Linked DNA regions of Homo sapiens. The protein of the gene in region 1 purifies or fractionates together with the protein of each later gene. This does not show direct contact. Each region holds a gene or a part of one and is shown in the gene's direction. Other genes may lie near its edges. The genes, in order: USP16 and OSCP1.

The links.
Region 2: the proteins of USP16 (region 1) and OSCP1 purify together in Homo sapiens (affinity purification with mass spectrometry; one large-scale study listed by BioGRID and IntAct). This does not show direct contact.

Annotation. Positions count from the first base shown.
Region 1 is NC_000021.9:29,027,607-29,031,428, forward strand, and holds part of USP16 (ubiquitin carboxyl-terminal hydrolase 16), read left to right. Parts: intron 1-266; 5' UTR 267-307; coding exon 308-368; intron 369-2,988; coding exon 2,989-3,167; intron 3,168-3,822. UniProt on the Homo sapiens protein: Specifically deubiquitinates 'Lys-120' of histone H2A (H2AK119Ub), a specific tag for epigenetic transcriptional repression, thereby acting as a coactivator.
Region 2 is NC_000001.11:36,433,214-36,437,035, reverse strand, and holds part of OSCP1 (protein OSCP1), read left to right. Parts: intron 1-1,082; exon of another isoform or gene 1,083-1,237; intron 1,238-3,822. UniProt on the Homo sapiens protein: May be involved in drug clearance in the placenta.

The DNA of each region.
Region 1 (3,822 bases):
ACCAAGGTTCTCTCCTGACCTTTACATATATTGAAAACCTCTTAAGCTTGCTAAGAATCACTTTCCTATGCTATGAAAAACGGGAGATAACTATTCTATCTACTTGAGTTCCTGTTGAAAATTAGATGATTATATGTGATTGGTCTTTGTAAATTACAATGTGATAGACATGCATAATATACGTGGCTTAGTTATATTACTGTCTCCTAGAGAAATATAAGACATACTTTTTTTTTTGGTCAAGCTAACTTTATCTTGTTTTCTAGATTGTTATTTTGTGTCAGTAAGTAATCCATAAAGTGCCAACATGGGAAAGAAACGGACAAAGGGAAAAACTGTTCCAATCGATGATTCCTCTGAAACTTTAGGTATATTTCATTGATTGAATCTTTAATGTTTATATCTCTAAATGAATATGTTTTAAAATGTAAAAATGGTATAAAGCTGCATATTATTGTTATATTATCTGCATTTTAATATAATGTTTGTATCTATATGTCATTTAATAGTCTTCTACTTTTTTTTTTTTTTTTGAGAAAGAATCTCGCTCTGTTGCCCAGGCTGGAGTGCAGTGGTGCAATCTCAGCTCACTGCAACCTCCGCCTCCCAGGTTCAAACGGTTCTCTCGTGCCTCAGCCTCTGAGTAGCTGGGATTACAGACACATCCCACCACAGCCAGCTAATTTTTTTTTTTTTTTTTAATAGTGACGGGGTTTCCCTGTGTTGGTCAGGCTGGTCTTGAACTCCTGGCCTCAAGTGATCCGCCTGCCTTGGCCTCCAAAAGTGCTAGGATTACACGTGAGAGCCACTGCACCTGACTTTCTACATCTTTTTTGTTTTTTTTCCTGAGACGGAGTCTGGCTCTGTTGCCCAGGCTGGAGTGCAGTAGTGTGATCTCAGCTCACTGCAGCCTTTGCCTTGAGGGTTCAAGCGATTCTCCTGTCTCAGCCTCATGAGTAGCTGGGATTACAGGTGTGCTCCACCACACCCAGCTAATTTTTGTATTTTTAGTAGAGACAGGGTTTCACCATGTTGACCAGGCTGGTCTTGAACTCCTGACCTCAAGTGATCCGCTTCCTCAGCATCCCAAAGTGCTGGGATTACAGGCGTGAGCCACCGCGCCCGACCTTCAACAACATTTTTAATGGCATATTATTGCATTTAGCAAAGACCATGGATGTATATTTCATAATTTATTTAGATAATTTTCTACTGTTACAGATTTAGGTAATCTTTAACTTTTTAGTATTATGAATGGCTCAGTAGTAAACAACTTTATAGCTAAATCTCTCTGTACATCCAAATATTTTCCTAATACACATACATAATTTTTGAATCGAAGGGTGTAAACATTTTTAAGACTCTTTTGATCCTGTTGCTAAATTGCCATCCAGAAATGTTTTACTAATTTCCAGGCCCCCTATTAGCGTAGTAAAGTGCCCATTTCCCTGAACCTTCATCGGCACTGGTTAGTATCATCTGTAAACATCTGTGCTGATTTGGTAGTTAAAAAAGGTTACCTTCTGACCAGGTGTGGTGGCTCACGCCTGTAATCCCAGCACTCTGGGAGGCCAAGGCGGGCAGATCACGAGGTCAGGAGATCGAGACCATCCTGGCTAACACGGTGAAACCCCGTCTCTACTAAACATACAAAAAATTAGCTGGGCGTGGTGGCGGGCGCCTGTAGTCCCAGCTACTTGGGAGGCTGAGGCAGGAGAATGGCGTGAACCTGGGAGGCGGAGCTTGCAGTGAGCCGAGATTGTGCCACTGCACTCCAGCCTGGGCAACAGAGCAAGACTCCGTCTCAAAAAGAAAAAAGAAAAAAAAGGGTACCTTCTTTTTCTAGTTTGTATTTCTTTGACTACTGAGATTTGGTAGTTTTTCCACCTGATCCCATTTGCATTTATATTTCTTTTCTTGGTGCAAGATCATTGGACATAAAGCTAATTATGCCACTTGACTAGTTTCTAAACCTCCAGTGTTCCTGGAACAACTCAGCACTGTAGAGTGGTTTGCAAAGCTCTTTACTTATCTTGGCCCCAACAGAGTTTTCAGCCTCAGGTTCAACTGCTCATTTTTGCACATTGTGTAACTCCATCATCTGGGGAGACAGCATGCACTTTCACATGTTTTTGTTCTTGGCATGGGCATTTTCAGATTGCCCTTCACTCCCTGAGGTCGCAGTTTAAAGTGTGAGCTATGAAGTCTGAAAGACTTGAGTCTAAATTCTGGCATAGATACTCAGTAGTTATGTGGGTACTAAATCTTAGTTTTCTCATTTGTCATTGGGAATAATAGTGTCTTCTAGGGTGATTGTAAGGATTAAATGGGATAATGTATTCAAAACATTTAACAAAGTTCATAGGACATATTTAATTAATATCAGCAATTTTTATTACTATTATTATCTTCTAGGATTGCACAGATGTTACCTCCCCTGTGAAACTTTTGGTGACTTTAGCCTTCTCTGCTTGTGCTGCTATACCATGTTTCGGAGATTCTTATACATTAATTTATTTAGCTGCCTTTCCTTCCAGAATGTGAGCTACTCAAAGAAAACAGCTGTGACTTGGTCAATTTTGGGCTCCTGAGCGTCTAGCACAGTGCCTGCCCTATAGTAGGTGTATTATTGACTAAATGAAGGACGTTTTCTACAAATCTTTAAAGATAAAGAGAATCATAAGTATGATAAAGGGCCTTAATTTAAAGGAAATAGCCAAATAAATTGAAATGAATTTGTAGTGGGGGACAGTGGTGGTTATATTTAGGACTTCAAGAAAGCGAAACTTCACAAATTTGTGTCAAATCTCTTTCTCACATATTTATCTCATATTATTCAAATATCAAACAATTTTAAGTTCAGAATATCTTAACAGTTTATAGAGTAAATTTCATTTTTGAAATGTGAATCGAGGGTAAGTTTTGAGATTAACTGAAGAAAGTCATTTTTGACCTTATATATTCCTTGTCTATTATTTGTTTTAATAGAACCTGTGTGCAGACACATTAGAAAAGGATTGGAACAAGGTAATTTGAAAAAGGCTTTAGTGAATGTGGAATGGAATATCTGCCAAGACTGTAAGACTGACAATAAAGTGAAAGATAAAGCTGAAGAAGAAACAGAAGAAAAGCCTTCAGTTTGGCTGTGTCTTAAATGTGGCCATCAGGTATGCTTACGTTTTAAGATCAATATGGGATTTTAGAAAACTCTTTGAACTTACTTTAGAAGGTATTACCTGAAAGTACAGTATGGATAAAAGGATACTAGTAACATAGATCATGTTCTCTGGAGAACCAGTTCTGAGATGTGTGTATAGGTGGTGGAGTGTTCTCTGGTACCACACCAGTAAAAGTAAGGGAAGCAAGATTAAGCATAGGGAGAAGTTGAATGAAGAGGCAGTGGCAACAGGGTCTCAGCCAATCCCACAGTGATCTCTTGCCTGAATTGAGGCAAGGAGCTAGACCTTTCTACCTGTGCATAGACCAGTCATTGGATGTGGCCTGCCCCTAGAGCAGGAAGTAACCTTGGGCAAGGCAGCTCCCTTTTGTTGAGACTGATTCCTGGGGATGGATGGACTAGACTGTGAGCTCTCAGCCGGCCACATTCTCAGCACCTGGGGGAATGAGTAGTACCTTGATCTTTGGCAGTGAGGGCATGTCTGGCTGGCACATCACAGTATCTACTCTACCAGCTCACAGTTATTACCGTGGTACTAAAGTCAGGGTCTCTCAGTTACCCTTAGTGGTGGCAAGTTAAGCTTATATGTTAGGAAATTGGGCTACTAGGCAGTAGTCATGAAGTCATGAGGCTTCAAGATCAGG
Region 2 (3,822 bases), on another chromosome or scaffold:
GGTTGCCAGTATGTACCCTGACATGATGTGATGAAAATGGAACTTCACCTCTGTGGTCTTCCTCCCCAAAACTCCAAACCCCAGGCTAACCATAAGAAAAACATCACACAAATACTGTTGGTTGGTCATGCTTACAAAATACCTGACCAGTACTCAAAACTATCAAGGTCACCAAAGTCAAGGAGAGTCAGAGAAACTGTCCAGCCAAGAGGAGCCCAAGGACACAGGACAGCAGAATAGAATGTGGTGTCCTGGATGGGATTTCAGAACAGAAATAGGATGTCAGGGGGAAACTAATGAAATCTTTAAAGTTTGGTCTTTAGTTAATGTAAAATATAATAATAATTCCTTTACAACTTCTCCCACCATGTGAAAGAGGACTACCAGGCACAGTGTCTTGCAGCTCTAATATCAGTGCTTTGGGATTGAGGCCAGGAGTTCAACACCAGCTTGGGCAACACAGCAAGACCAAATCTCTACAAAAAAATTTTAAAAGACCAGGTGTAATGGCGTATGCCTGTAATCCCAGCACTTAGGGAGGCCAAGGCAGGAGGATCGCTTGAGCCCAGGAGTTCAAGACCAGCCTTGGCAACATAGCAAGACCCTGTCTCTAAAAAAATAGAGAGGGCCGGGCGCGGTGGCTCACGCCTGTAATCCCAGCACTTTGGGAGGCTGAGGCGGGTGGATCATGAGGTCAAGAGATCGAGACCATCCTGGCTAACATGGTGAAATCTCGTCTCTACTAAAAATACAAAAAAAAAAAAATTAGCCCGGTGTGGTGGTGGGCGCCTGTAGTCCCAGCTACTCGGGAGGCTGAGGCAGGAGAATGGCGTGAACCTGGGAGGCGGAGCTTGCAGTGAGCTGAGATCACGCCACTGCACTCCAGCCTGGGGGACAGAGCAAGACTCCATCTCAAAAAAAAAAAAAAAAATAGAGAGAGAGAGAAAGAAAAATTTTAAAAATCATGATGACTGATGGTGGGAGTTAGACTTGCAGAGTCAGCACTCACTTATTACTGGTACTTAGAAGACTCAGGGAGACAGACTGCCTTTAACTGGGCCCTCTTACCTCTTGCCACTTACCTTTGGAAAGTTACTTTAACTCGGCCAGGCGCGGTGGCTCATGCCTGTAATCCCAGGACTTTGGGAGGCCGAGGCAGGCGGATCACGAGGTCAAGAGATCGAGACCATCCTGGCCAACATGGTGAAACCCCGTCTCTACTAAAAATACAAAAAATTAGCTGGGCATGGTGGCAAGTGCCTGTAATCCCAGCTACTTGGGAGGCTGAGGCAGGAGAATTGCTTGAACCCGGGAGGCAGAGGTTGCAGTGAGCCAAGATCGCGCCATTGCACTCCAGCCTGGGCAAAAAGAGCAAAACTCTGTCTCAAAACAAAAAAAAAAAAGTTACTTTAACTCTCTGAGCCTTCATTTTCTCATCTGTAAAATGAGGATAATAAATGCTACTTCATCAATTATTAGGATAATTAAGTGAGAAACATACCTAGGCCTGGCATATAGCTGTTCAATAAATATTAATTATATTTTCAGTTCTGCTTGCTCTTCTCTCTCTGCCTTTAAAAAAGTTTAGAGACTGAGCACAGTAGCTCACACCTGTAATCCCAGCACTTTGAGAGGCCCAGGTGGAAGAATCACTTGAGCCTGGGAGTTCAACACCAGCCTGGGCAACATAGCAAAAACCCGTCTCTAATATTTTTTAACATATTAAAAAAAAAACCATAGTGAGACCTCATCTCTACTAAAAATTAGAAGAACTAGCTGGTCACACAGTGGCACACAACTGTAGTCCCAGCTACTCAGGAGGCTGAGACAGGAGGATAGCTTGAGCAGGGGAGGTTGAGGCTTCAGTGAGCTGTGTTCACGCCACTGTACTCCAGCCTGGGTAACAGAGTGAGACCCCCATGTCAAAAAAAAAAAAAAAAAAAAGAAAAAGAAAAGAAAAGAAAAGGAAGTTTAAATTTCCATAGAGGAAGGACACAGAACTTAGAATTAAAAAAGCTGAGTTTAAGCCTTAGCTCTACCAGTTACTAGCTGTGAGACCCAATTTACTGAATTACTCTGAACTGGCATTCCTTCATCTTATACCTGTTTTTATTCTTTATTTCTAGCATGGTTTCCTATATACGAGCACTTAATGTTTGACAATGATGGCAGAGTCTCAAATCTGTATCTCCAGTATTGTACTTTCCCAATCCCCATGCACACACACCAGGCTATTCCTGTTTTCTGGGGCTTGTTTTAATTTCTTTTTTTTTTTTTTTTTTTTTTGAGACAAAGTCTCACTCTGTCACCCAGGCTAGAGTGCAGTGGCACTAACTCGGCTCACTGCAACCTCTGCCTCCCAGGTTCAAGCAATTCTCCTGTCTCAGCCTCCTGAGTAGCTGAGATTACAGGCACGCACCACCACACCCGGCTAATTTTTGTATTTTTAGTAGAGATGGGGTTTCAACATGTTGGCCAGGCTGGTCTCGAACTCCTGACCTCAGGTGATCCACCCACCTCGGCCTCCCAAAGTGCTGGGATAACAGGCGTGAGCCACTGCATCTGGCTAGCTATTCTGGTTGTATGCCACCTTCTAAGTGGAAATGTTTGGCTGCAGGTAGGAGAAATGGGATTGTGTAGCAGGGTCCTGGCAAGTGCCTTAGAATCTGATAGTCTTGAGGTCAAATATCATTCTGCACTTACCAGCAATATGAAATTAGGCAAGTTTCCTCATTATTAAACTGGGCTAATACCTACCTCATAGAGTTCTTGTGAAGAATAAATGGGATCAAATGAGGTAATATATATACACGTGCTTGGCATGACACTCAGATGGTAGTTGTTTATCGTTTCAATCCTGCCCCAGACATGTCCTTAAGTTAACCGTCCATCTTCTCTCCTGGCTCTTCCGCTCCCACATCCCTCAGACGTCTTTTCCTCCATCAATAGCATCATCCCTCCCCACCCGCACTAGGCTGAAAAGGTGCAGTCCTTCTGGACAACCCTGATCATCATCCCCCAAATCTAGGCAGTCACCACCTACTGACAGCTTTTCCTTCTAAATATCGCGTGATCTTCCTTTCCCTGACTTCTCCGTTCCCACTATCTTTTTTCCAGGCCTTAAGTCTGGATTGCTCCAACAACATTTCTTTCATTCATGCAATCAGTAGATATTTATTGTAATCTTTTCAGGAACCAGGTGCTAGCTACTCCCCCTAACTAGTCTCTCCCTTCTGTCACAGCTCATCATTGCCAGATCTCGTTCAGTCACCACTTTGATCATGTCAGCCCAGAAAACTTTAACCCCCTAACTTCTACTACATCTAGTCTAAATTATATTGTGTATCTCCCCAAAAACTTTATTCTATTTTTAATAATTCAGCTTTTATTTTATATTCAGGAGGTACATGCACAGGTTTGTTACATGGGTATATTGCGTGATCCTGAGGTCTGGGGTACAAGTGAGCCCATCAGTCAGGTAGTCAGCATAGTACCCAATAGTTAGTTTTTCAGCCCTTGACCCCTACCTCCCTCCCTCCCTCCCCATTCTTGCAGTCCCCAGTTTCTATTGTTGCCATCTTCATTTGCCATACTTACCCAGCTTTATTACCTGCCATCCCCAACACAAACTGTCCTCAGGCCATTCTCCTCTTTCTCCCAGAAAAATAACATACTCATTGCTGCCTCCAGGCCCTCACATGTACTGTTTCCCTCAACTGGAATGTCTTTCCTCTGCCCTCAGCCAATTTAAATCCTGCAGCTGCCTCGAGGGCTATATAAGGCCACTTGTACCACAAAGCCTGCCTTCACCACTTTGGTCCC